Linked DNA regions of Homo sapiens: all the other regions are linked to region 2. The links come from fine-mapping of genetic effects on gene expression. A gene starts in region 2. Each other region holds a variant in brackets. All regions are shown on one strand. Distances are between the middles of the regions. Region 1 overlaps CRISPLD2 (cysteine rich secretory protein LCCL domain containing 2). Region 2 holds the start of CRISPLD2 (cysteine rich secretory protein LCCL domain containing 2). Region 3 overlaps CRISPLD2 (cysteine rich secretory protein LCCL domain containing 2).

The links.
Region 1: its variant is fine-mapped to the expression of CRISPLD2 in whole blood (TOPMed, PIP above 0.99).
Region 3: its variant is fine-mapped to the expression of CRISPLD2 in whole blood (TOPMed, PIP above 0.99).

The regions. Positions count from the first base shown.
Region 1 is chr16:84,902,862-84,906,861 of GRCh38, forward strand. CRISPLD2 (cysteine rich secretory protein LCCL domain containing 2) reads left to right here. Exons shown (of 15, transcript NM_031476.4): 15 at 3,727-4,000. The coding sequence ends at 3,781. Among named protein-coding and RNA genes, the nearest start is that of LINC02176, 23 kb to the right of the region's middle. The variant A/G (reference allele first, on the strand shown) is at 2,485.
Region 2 is chr16:84,817,883-84,821,882 of GRCh38, forward strand. It overlaps CRISPLD2 (cysteine rich secretory protein LCCL domain containing 2), which reads left to right and starts at 2,103. Exons shown (of 15, transcript NM_031476.4): 1 at 2,103-2,251. RefSeq lists a silencer at 1,876-2,065.
Region 3 is chr16:84,907,867-84,911,866 of GRCh38, forward strand. CRISPLD2 (cysteine rich secretory protein LCCL domain containing 2) reads left to right here. Exons shown (of 15, transcript NM_031476.4): 15 at 1-1,642. Among named protein-coding and RNA genes, the nearest start is that of LINC02176, 18 kb to the right of the region's middle. RefSeq lists a silencer at 2,289-2,404. The variant T/A (reference allele first, on the strand shown) is at 2,173.

The DNA of each region.
Region 1 (4,000 bases), 85 kb after region 2:
TCCTGGGTTCAAGCGATTCTCCTGCCTCAGCCTCCCAGGTAGCTGGGATTACTGGTGCCTGCCACCACAGCCAGCTAATTTTTGTATTTTTAGTAGGGGTTTCACTGTGTTGAGCAGGCTGGTCTCGAACTCCTGACTTCAAGTGATCTGCCCACCTCAGCCTCCCAAAGTGCTGGGATTACAGGAATGATCCACCGTGCCTGGCCTAAAACCAGCCCATTTCTAAGTTCAGTTTGATGAGGTGGCACCTAGCAGGGTGACTCCGATCTGATTTGGTTTGGTCTGTTGGGCCTAGCCCAGTCCAAAACAATGGCCTCCCGTCAATTTAATGCTCCCCTCCTCCCACCTTCCGGGTCTCCTCTCCAGCCTGGCCCCTTCCTGGACCTCCCCCAAGAACCCAGGTACCCCCAACATCGGCACTGTCACAGAACATTCCGGAAAGTATCCTTAGAAGCCTGTAATCCCAGCACTTTGGGAGGCCGAGGCAGGCGGATCATGAGCTCAGGCGTTTGAGACCAGCCCGGCCAAGAGACCAGCCTGGCCAATATGGTGACACCCCATCTCTACAAAAAATACAAAAATTAGCTGGGTGTGGTGGCGCATGCCTGTAATTCCAGCTAGTTGAGAGGCTGAGGCAGGAGAATCGCTTGAACCTGGGAGGCGGCGGTTGCAATGAGCCGAGATCACACCGTTGCACTCCAGCCTGGGCAACAGGGCGAGACTCTGTCTTAAAATTTAAAAAAAAAAAAAAAAGCCCAAAGAGACTTAGTGACTTTGTCACACAGTTACTAAACGTTAGTGTAGGGATGGAGACTCGCGTCTGGAAGACATGCTCCAGAGGTGAGATTTGCAGAATGCCAAAGCAGGATGCATGGGAAATCTTATTCCCAAAAGCAGTGTTCAAAAACAGCTGTTTCAGGACTCCAGAAATACACCACAGAGTCATACAACGAACAGGGAGGTGTTTGTTCAAAAAAGTGTGGACCTCAGATAAGAACAGAGGGATCTGTGGTGTCTGAGCCTGGGACCGCTCCTGTTCACCCCACCAGCTCCTGTGGCTGGAAGTTCTACTGGGGTGGGGCTGTGCCATCCAGCGGCTTTCTTGATTTGAAGCAGAGCGAGGAAAACCACACACCTCTGGCCATTGTCAGGAACAGTATCAAACCTGGTGGCCAAGACACAGGAAGGCCAGTTGGTCCAAAGGTGCAGTTATCATCTGGGGCAGAAAATCAGGGAGGATCTAGAGAATGAGACAGCCGTGGTGGCCCTTGGTAGGCTCCCAGGCGTCCCTGGTGTTCTAGAAGGCTGTGCCCACAGCAAGAGGAGCAAAGCGGGAGGGGGCACTTAGGCTTCCCAATTCTGAAACATCCTATACAGCGACAGTGATCAAGATGGTGGTGCTGACATCAGGACAGACACAGAGATTAAGAGAACGTGATTGGGCCTGGTACGGTGGCTTACGCCTGAAATCCCAGCACTTTGGGAGGCCAAGGAGGGGAGGATCACGAAGTCAGGAGTTCCAGAGCAGCCTGGCCAACATGGCAAAACCCCATCTCTGCTAAAAATACAAAAATTAGCCCCGCGTGGTGGTGTGCACCTGTAATCCCAGCTACTTGGGAGGCTGAGGCCAGAGAATCACTTGAACCTGGGAAGCAGAGGTTGCAGTGAGCCAAGATTGCACCACTGTACTCCAGCCTGGGCAACAGAGCGAGACTCGGTCTCAAAAAAAGGTAAAAAAAAAAATTTAAAAAAAAAATTAAAAAAAAAAATGATTGGAAGTCCATAAAATAAATCATCACACTTCCAGTCAATTGATTTTGACATCGGTGCCAGGACCATTCAGTGGGCAGAGAATAATTTCTCAACAAATGATGCAAGGGCAATTAGATATTTACAAGTAAAACTGTGATGTTGGACCTTTGCCTCACACTATATATAAAAATTAACTCAAAATGGATCCAAGGCTGAAATGTAAGAGCTAAAAATTACAGATGTCTGAGAAAACAAGTATAAATCCTTCATGACCTTGGATGGTTTGCTAGATATGACGCCAAAAGCACAATCTATAAATGAAAACAAATTGATAAATTGTATTCTATCAAAGTTTAAAACTTTTATGCCTTAAAAGACACCATTAGGCCAGGCACGGTGGCTCACACCCATAATCCCAGCACTTTGGGAGGCTGAGGCAGGAGGATCACTTGGGCCCAGGAGTTTGAGACCAGCCTGGGCAACATAGTGAGACTCCATCTGTACAAAAAATAAAATATATCAATCAGGCTTGGTGACATGCTGCTCAGGAGGCTGAGGAGGGAGGATCGCTTGCACTCAGGAGGTCAAGGCTGAAGTAAGCCACGATCATGCCACTGCACTCTGGCCTTGGTGACAGACCTTGTGTCTAAAACAATTTTTAAAAATTGTCTAACACTGGATTGTGGAGATGACTGCACAACTCTATAAAATCTCTAAAAACCATTGAATTGT[A/G]CACTTAGAAAGGTTGAGTTTATACGGTATGTTAAACTTAATAAAGTTGGTTTGGTTTTTTTTTTGTTTTTTGAAACAGAGTCTCACTCTCTTGCCCAGGCTGGAGTGCAGTGGCAGAATCTTGGCTCACTGCACACTCCACCTCCCACGTTCAAGTGATTCTCCTGCCTCAACCTTCAACTAGCTGGGATTACAGGTGCACACCATCATGCCTGGCTAATTGTTTGTAGAGGCAGGGTTTCACCATGTTGGCCAGACTGGTCTCGAATTCCAGACCTCAAGTGATCCACCTGCCTTGGCCTCCCAAAGTGCTGGGATTCCAGGTGTGAGGTGTGAGCCACCGTGCCTGACCAATAAAGCTCTTTTTTTTTTTTTTTTTTGGAGACAAAGTCTTACTCTTGTCCCCCAGGCTGGAGTGCAATGCCTTGATCTTGGCTCACTGCATCCTCCGCCTCCCAGGTTCAAGTGATTCTTCTGCCTCAGCCTCCCGAGTAGCTGGGATTACAGGCGCCTGCCACCACATCCGGCTAATTTTTGTATTTTTCGTAGAGATGGGGTTTCACCATGTTGGCCAGGCTGGTCTCGAACTCCTGACCTCAGGTGGTCCACCCGCCTCACTCCCAAAGTGCTGAGGTTACAGGCATGAGCCACCGCGCCTGGCCTAAAGCTCTTTTTTAAAAACCATCTTTGATTAGCTGAAGGATTTAACTCCTCTTGTGAGAGGGCAGTTTTTACTAGCCATGGGACCCTGGGTAAATCTCTTTATTTCCTGGTGTCTCCGTTTCCTCCCCTGTGAACGAGCGATAACAGCTCCCTCAGGAGGAAGGTGGAAGGCGGTGAAGCACCTGGCATATGCAGTAGTGCTGAGATAGCACCTGTTCATCTCTCCCAAGACACCACTGTTCGGGTTGACAGGTGGTAGTGAAACCAAGCAGAATTCTCGGAGGGTGAGTCCAATCCAGACAGACTGGGTCCAGCAGATCCCTGAGTTAAAAGGAAATAACTTAACAGCCTTGACCTAGAATCAGATGGATGCTCATGTGCAGAGAAAATGGGATTTGCCACCTGTTCTCAACTCAAGGCAGGCTCTGTGTCTGGCGGCTTCAAGGAAGTGTCCCTTGGCCATGGCTCTTCCACTACGGGAGCAAGCAGGAGGCACCCAGGTCTCCCTGCCCACCCAGAGTCCCTGCAGGAGGCCCTCCAGATCTCTCAGTAACGGGCCCTCTTTCTTCTTTTTTTCAGCCTGGGGACTCCTCGGGATGGAAAGGCCTTCCGGATCTTTGCTGTCAGGCAGTGAATTTCCAGCACCAGGGGAGAAGGGGCGTCTTCAGGAGGGCTTCGGGGTTTTGCTTTTATTTTTATTTTGTCATTGCGGGGTATATGGAGAGTCAGGAAACTTCCTTTGACTGATGTTCAGTGTCCATCACTTTGTGGCCTGTGGGTGAGGTGACATCTCATCCCCTCACTGAAGCAACAGCATCCCAAGGTGCTCAGCCGGACTCCCTGGTGCCTGATC
Region 2 (4,000 bases):
GGTACTCAGAGGCATCTGTTTTGTTGTTGTTTGTTTGTTTGGTTGGTTGGTTTTGTTTTGAAATAGGGTCTTGCTCTGTCACCCAGGCTGGGATGCAGTGGCTCGATTTCAGCTCACTGCAACCTCCACCTCCCAGGCTCAGGCAATCCTCCCACCTCAGCCTCCTGAGTGGCTGGAACCACAGGCATATGCCACCATGCTGGCTACTTTTTGTAGCAACTGGATTTCATCATGTTGCAGGCTGGTCCTGAACTCAAGCCACCTGCCTGGGCCTCCCAAAGTGCTGGGATTACAGGCCTGAGCCATCGTGCCAGGCCTCCAAAGGCATCTGCTAACACAGATCTCTTCTCCCCTTGGATTTGTCTTTTGTCAATCCAAGGACTGTTGTTCTGGAACAGTCTTATTCACTACTGAGCCCTCCAGTGCTTGAAACAGAGCCCAGCACATAGTAGGTGCTTAATTATTGGATGACTGCATGCCAGTTGAGTGCCTCTGAAGAATGATGCTTCAAAGACTGAGAAAAGTAAAACAAAAAGAGGAAAAAAAGATAACAGAAAACATCTGCATTATTATTATCTTTTTGAGATGGAGTTTTGTTCTTGTCTCCTAGGCTAGAGTGCAATGGCGCCATCTCAGCTCACTGCAACCTCTGCCTCTCAGGTTCGAGCGATTCTCCTGCCTCAGCCTCCCAAGTAGCTGGGACTACAGGCATGCACCACCATGCCCGGCTAATTTTTGTATTTTTAGTAGAGACAGTGTCACCATGTTGGCCGGGATGGTTTCGAACTCCTGATCTCAGGTGATCCGCCCGCCTCAAACTCCCACAGTGCTGGGATTACAGGTGTGAGCCACCGCGCCCGGCCAGTCTGCATTATTCTGTATCTGCATTTGAGCCGCACCAAAATCTTAGGCAAGCCTTCCCTGTTTGAGTCCACGTCACGCAGGCAGCCTTCCATAGTCCTTGTTCCACCCATTCCCCATCCTTGTTTCTCCCACGTGCCCTAGCTCGTGGGGGCCCCAGACTCTGAGATCCCGGAGGTGTCTTGTTTGTGCCTGCTGTATAGCACAGGGCCCGGCACAGAGCGACTCGATGGGTATTTGGGGAATGAGTTAATGCTGGAGGAGCTAATTCCGGTGTCTTGGTGCGGAGATGAGCAGTGCGGACAGGCCCCCTCCTGCCCTTGGGCCCCAGCACCTTACCGCGCAGTGCCTGCATACCCGTCCACATTTTGTGACTGAGGCGGGAGCACGGGGCAGTCCCTTAGCTCTTAAGGAACGTGGATTTACCTGTTTCAAAGGTGATTTCGTCTGGCTCTAAATTGATTTCCGTATGTACCTGCACAGGTTAAAAATGCTAAATGCCTCCGGGCAAAAGAGATATGAACATGCTGCACTGCTCCTAGCTACGGGACTTGGGGCACGCTCTTCTCCAAGCCTCAGCTACTGGATCTGTGAAATGAGGTGATTTCCACCTCCCTGGATTCCTGGGAACGCGTCCTAGGGTCGTTGAAGGTAAAGTGCGGAGCCTGGATCCCCGCGCTAGCGGCCCCATCCGGAAACAAGTCTCCCTTTCTTCGTCTGCAAATTGGGAAGAGGGGGCCTAAGTTTTCTGAGCACGTGTAGAGGGTGGGAGTCACCTCAGTAACTGTGTACTCTGCACCGCGCCACAGTTCACAGCGCCCAGCCCTTGCGGATTTCATTTGCTAAAATCCTGGGAGGTCGCCTCCTTATTCCTATTTTCCAGTTGAGCTGCAGAGAGCTGGGGTTTGGTAAATTTGCAAGCCCCTTGTGGGAAGCGCTTGGCACCGCGCCAGGCGCATAGTAAGCGCTCAATGAAAACTATGCTTGTGTGGCCAGTGGCGAGGGAGCTGAGCGTCTCCTTGTCCCTAGCCGGCCCTGGAGGCCAGCGGCCCCGCCTTCCTCGCCCACCCGGCGCCCGCGCCTCAGCTGCCCCCCGCCTCCTTCAGCCCGCTGAGCCTGCGGGGCGGGGCCGGGGGCGGGGCCGGTGATGCTCGGTCCTACCAGCGCCGCCAGCGATCTGGGGGCGTGGCCTCCGGGCTCCGGGGAGCCTACAAGAGGCGGTACGCTGAGCCCCGGCACCCACTCGCATCCCAGGGCGTCTCCGGCTGCTCCTATTGAGCTGTCTGCTCGCTGTGCCCGCTGTGCCTGCTGTGCCCGCGCTGTCGCCGCTGCTACCGCGTCTGCTGGACGCGGGAGACGCCAGCGAGCTGGTGATTGGAGCCCTGCGGAGGTAAGTGTGATTTCCATGCTTCTCCCTTTTGCAAACTGTTACCCCCCCGAGAAGCTGGAATAACTAGGACAGATGCCACCTCGCAGGGCTGACTGTGTGCTGGCACCACACCGAGTGCTCTGCTTGCATAGCGGAACACAGCTTTGCGACATGCCCTTTTGCAGATGGAGAAACTGAGGCTCAGCGAGGACAACTCATTTGTCCAGGACCTCGCAGCCAGGACTCCAAGGACCCAGGATTCAACGCCGATCTGAGCGCAGAATCCTGCTCCTTAGAGGCTGTTTACTCTCTTGCCTTCCTCGTGCAGTTCACTAGCATTTGTTGCATTCCTGTGTTCGTAGTGGGTGTCAATAACTGGAAAGCTGATGGCATGGATATGGCAGGCATTAGAATGTGTCCTACTCATGTCTGGAGGACCAGGGTGATCTAGTGGCATGTGCATTCAGCTGCAGTTTAGAGGGCCACGCCCCTCTGTGATTTCATTTGCAAGGTAGCCTTCTTCCCACATTTCAGATGAAGATGCTGAGGGTCAGAGAGGTGAAGTAAGTTGTCCGGGCAGAGCCAGGGCTGGAACCCAGCTCTGTCTGTCTCCAGAGCTTCAAATGGATGTGTAGAGACTTGGGGCCATGTCAGGGTTCTGCAGTCTGGGGGAACACGTTTCTGGGTTTCTTTAGCCAGAGCGGGCACCTGCATAACTCCTGCGTGGGGAGAGTTACCCTGGAAGCGGAGGGCTCACTCTGGAGTGTGGGGGAGATCGGTCGTCCCACGTGGACAGAGCCAGGGCTAGTCCCTCATGTGCTGCAGACCCAGAGCCTCCCTTGCTAAGGCTGGGCTGGTGGACAAGCCAGGGAGGACTTCGCTGATGCCTGCTCATCGCAGTCCAACTTGAATTGGGCGTCTCTCAGCCAAAATGTGAGTTGCTGCCCTGGCTGAGAGAAGCATCCCGTGCAAATGCCTAGCTTGCCTTGCAACCGAGAGTGGGGTTGTGAGTTTCCCCTTTGGGCCTTTGGACCTCTTGCCCTGGTAGAATGGGGTGAGCCTGCTTTCCCCATCCAGGGTCTGATGTCTGACAGTGAGGAGAGCCTGCAGAACAGGACCGGGGCGTGGTCCTTTCCAGTAGACTGAGGCCATGAGTTGTGACTGTCGGCTGTCCCAGGGCTCCTTGGGTTGTATGCACCTGATTTTCTGCTTCTGCCCCTGATCTGGCTGTTCCCACTCAGGAGAAGGGGTGGGTGTGTGACTGTGTTGCCTGTGCGGCAGGCACGCGGTCTGTGCCACGCAGTTTACCTGTATTGTCATCGCTGCAACACCCCGGGGAGTAGGCCTCTTGATGCCCACTTCACAGCTGAGGAAACTGAGGCTCAGCAAGGTGAAGTGCTTGCCTAAGATCCCCCAGCTGGTATGGAATGCTGTCACCCCCAGGTGGGTCCTATCTGCACTCTTGACCCTGCTTTCTTTAAGACACTTCCCTGCCCACTGCCAACTCCACCCATGAACCTGACCTTCACACAGGTGATGTTTTGTCTTACAGGGGCTCCAGTTAAAACCACTGGACAATGTACCCAGGGAGGAGAAACCAAGAGGGTGATTTTGATTTTTTCAGAGTTTCTTAAGATGTGAGAGTAGGAATAGTAATAATGCCATTTGTAATAATACAAGCAGCTGACATTTACATGATGCTTAGTACAGACCAGACATGCCCAGGGTTTCCACGGATGAGCTCACTGCCTGCTCTATTAGCTGGGCACT
Region 3 (4,000 bases), 90 kb after region 2:
CACCCTGGCTGCCATCACTCTATAAAAGTGCTTCATGAGCCCAGACCAAAAGCCCACAGTGAAATGAAGTACCCTTTTGTAAATAGCATTTTTTTGCAGAAGGTGAAAATTCCACTCTCTACCACCGGGCCAGCCAATAGATCACTTTGGTGAATGCTAGTTTCAAATTTGATTCAAAATATTTCTTAGGTGAAAGAACTAGCAGAAAGTCAAAAACTAAGATACTGTAGACTGGACAAGAAATTCTACCTGGGCACCTAGGTGATGCCTTCTTTCTTTGATTGCCTTTCTAATAAATGCAGAATCTGAAGGTAAATAGGTTTAAAACAAAACAAAAACCCACCCCTTTAAGGAGTTGGTAAAAAGCAGTTCAACTCTTAGCTTGACTGAGCTAAAATTCACAGGACTACGTGCTTTGTGCATTGTAGTCTAGTCGTAATTCATAGGTACTGACTCCTCAGCCCCAAATGTCGGAGAGGAAGAATTCGGTCAGCCTGTCAGGTCGTGAGTCCAGTTACCACCAAACATCTGGGAAACTTCTGGGTGCTGGGTGCTCTGCTGCTGGACTTTTGTGGCTGTGTCTGTGTCTGCAAGATAAATTAGATCGCCCTGTGGGGTTTGCAGAATTAGTGAAGGGTCCAGGACGATCCCAGTGGGCTCGCTTCCAAAGCATCCCACTCAAGGGAGACTTGAAACTTCCAGTGTGAGTTGACCCCATCATTTAAAAATAAAGTCCCCGGGTTCCTTAATGCCTCCTTCACTGGGCCTTCCTAGCAGGATAGAAAGTCCTTGCCCAGAGCAGGACCTGGCTGTCTTTTTTTTTTTTTTTTTTTTTTTCCCGAGACCAAGTTTCACTCTGTTGCCCAAGGTAGAGTGCAGTGGCGTGATCTCTGCTCATTGCAACTGCCGCCTCCCGGGTTCAAGCAATTCTCATGCATCAGCCTCCCAAGTACCTGGGACTACAGGCGTGAGCTACCATGCCCGGCTAATTTTTGTATTTTTAGTAGAGATGGGGTTTCATTATGTTGGCCAGGCTGGTCTCGAACTCCTTACCTCAGGTGATCCACCCACCTTGGCCTCCCGAAGTGCTGGGATTACAGGCATGAGCCACTGCGCCCGGCCATGGACCTGGCTGTCTTTATCATCCCCACAAACATTTTGAAACTGGAATATTTGTCTTCAGAAAATGGAAACAAGACTATAAATGATAAGCCCTGTCCCTAGCACCACCTCTCCTGTGTGTGGAATAGAGGCCCCTCGTGCTACCAACACTTACCCTGTGTTTAAAAAGATCTTGTACCAAGCCAACGGCGTTCCTGGCTCTCCTGCCCACAGGATGAACATTTTCGGCTTCCTTAGGAGTTTTGCCCTACCGTATTCCAAAGCGTGTGCTGGTTTCTCATATTGTCTGTAGGCTCACTCAGCCCGCAGTTTATGTGTGTGCTTTTTTCTATGAAAAATGATGTATTTTGCTACTTCCTGTGTACAAAGTTTTATTGTAAATGTTTTTTGTGCTTTGCATGAACAGGGGCCACGTTGTTGCAATTGTTTCAGTAGAACTGGTTTGATTTCTAAAATGTTCCTGTAACATATCTTTTATGAACAAATCTGAACAATTTGTGAAATAAAACATTGAAAACCATCTTTCAGGCTCTGGACTGTTTTGTGTTGGCTGCTTCTGCTAGGATGTCTCATATACACAGAGATGCTGACAGCCAGGGCCTGGTGGAGACCTCCACCCCATCCGCGGGAAGGAGGGAGGAGCTTGCCAAAATGCAATTTCGGGCTCAGCAAGGCTGGGTTGGGGCCAGGGACTGTGAATTTCTCCCAAGATCCTGGTGATGCGAATGCTGCCAGTCCCCAGATCACACTCTGAGTGGTGGTGGGCTCAAGGCCATTCTGTCTAAGCTCCGGCTGCCCTAACAAAATACCATAGACTGGGTGACTTAACCCACAGAGATATCTTCCTCACAGTTCTGGAGGCTGGAAGTCTAAGATCAGGGTGCCAGCAGCGTTGGTTTCCTCTGCGGCCTCTCTTTGGTTTGCAGGTGGCTGCCCCTGGCCGTGTCCTCACATGGCCTTTCCTCTGGGCATGTACACTCCTGGTGTCTCTCTCTCTCTCTTATAAGGACACCGGTCATATTGGGTCTGGGCCCCACCCTTAGGACCCAT[T/A]TAACCTGAATTACCTCCTTAAAGGCCCTACCTTGAAATACACAGGCTGGCTCATGCCTGTAATCCCAGCACTTTGGGAAGCTGAGGCAGGAGGATCACTTGAGTCCAAGAGTTCAAGAGCAGTCTGGGCAACATGGGGAAACCTTATCTCTACAAAAAAAATACAAAAATTTGCCGGGCATGGTGGCGCATGCATGTAGTCCCAGCTACTTGGGAGGCTGAGGCAGGAGAATTGCTTGACCCTGGGAGGCAGAGGTTGCAGAGAGCCAAGATGACACCACTGCACTCCAGCCTGAGTGACAGAGCGAGACACACACACACACACACACACACACACACACGAAAGAAATACATTGGGGGTTAGGGATCGTTTTGTGTGGTTACAATAAGGAAATGATCAAAGTACGATTTCACAAATCACACAGTTTATTGCTACACAAAGATGTTTTTTCCTTAGGTTCCCAGTGCTTAAACAGGGAGAGAATGAGACCAAACCTCACAGAGAATACACTCGACAGACGAAGCCCATTAACCCCACAGTGGGTCAGTTCCAGAATGATCAAGGCCTACTTGCTCACTTAGGATGGAAGCAGGCCTCAGTTTGAGGTGCACCTTCTACCAGCCGTTCTTGGAAGCGCTGTAAGGTCCCTAGAAGGCAGTTCCAGCGCTGGCCAGAGGCTTCTGAGAGTAGCTCCAAGGCTGGCGGGGTGACCTGTCACAGCTGGAGCTCCCAGCTTTGGGAGAAGATGCCGAGGGTGCAGCCGGCCACAGCCAGAGCTCCCAAAGGGTCCGTCCCACTGGCAGGTTTGCATGTGTATGGAAGTCCAGTCGTGAGGGTCAGGAGCTCGCAGACGGGGTCCGATAAGGGGTGAGGCCACATTCTCCAGGGAAGAAGGGGCACACCAAGTTCTTAGCGCAGCAAAACGCGTCACCCACGTAGCAACCTGTGGAGGTGTCTGGAATCATTTCAAAGCCCTGTGGGCCGGGCACAGTGGCTCGTGTCTGTAATCTCAGCACTTTGGGAGGCCGAGGTGGGTGAATTGCTTGAGGTCAGGCGTTCGAGACCAGCCTGGCCAATATGGTGAAACCCCATCTCTACTACAAATACAAAAATTAGCCAGGCGTGGTGGTGCACGCCTGTAATCCCAGCTACTTGGGAAGCTGAGGCAGGAGAATGGCTTGAACCCAGGAGGAGGAGGTTGTGGTGAGCCGAGATCGCGCCACTGCACTCCAGCCTGGGCAATACAGTGAGACTTTATCTCAAAAACAAAACAAACAAAGAAAACCCTATGTGTTCAGGGTGGGAAATTTAGTTCGTAACGGTCACCTTCTTCCCAGGCATCAGCCCAAAGCAGCCCCTTTTCACCAAGCGCAGTCACATCTCGCTGAGTGCCTCAATGCACCAAAGCCCCAGAGCAATTTGGGGGCACGGGGCCGGCCTTTCCTCTCCCCGGTGAAGGCGCCTGCCTTCCTCTCAGGCTCATCTCTAGTGCGGTCCTTTTCCATGCGTGATGGGGATAGCTTTCCTCTTTAAGAAATACCAGGCTTTTAAAATGTCCATTTTAAAATGTTGAGTAAGTTAAGATTGTGCAGGTCAATTGCAAAAATCACCAAGATTGGATAATAAGGGCTGAAGTTTGCGAAACACTTCCGGCTCTGCCCACAGCATCCTCAGCGTATGGCATTTGTCCTGCGACATACAGATGGTTACTGCTCCTAATATCATTATTTTGACCAATGCATTTGGCATTCCCTGCACTGTTTTCTCCTCTAAAAGTGTCTCCCAGGCCTTCACTGCTTCAGCCACTGCTCTCCTGCCTTCTACCCC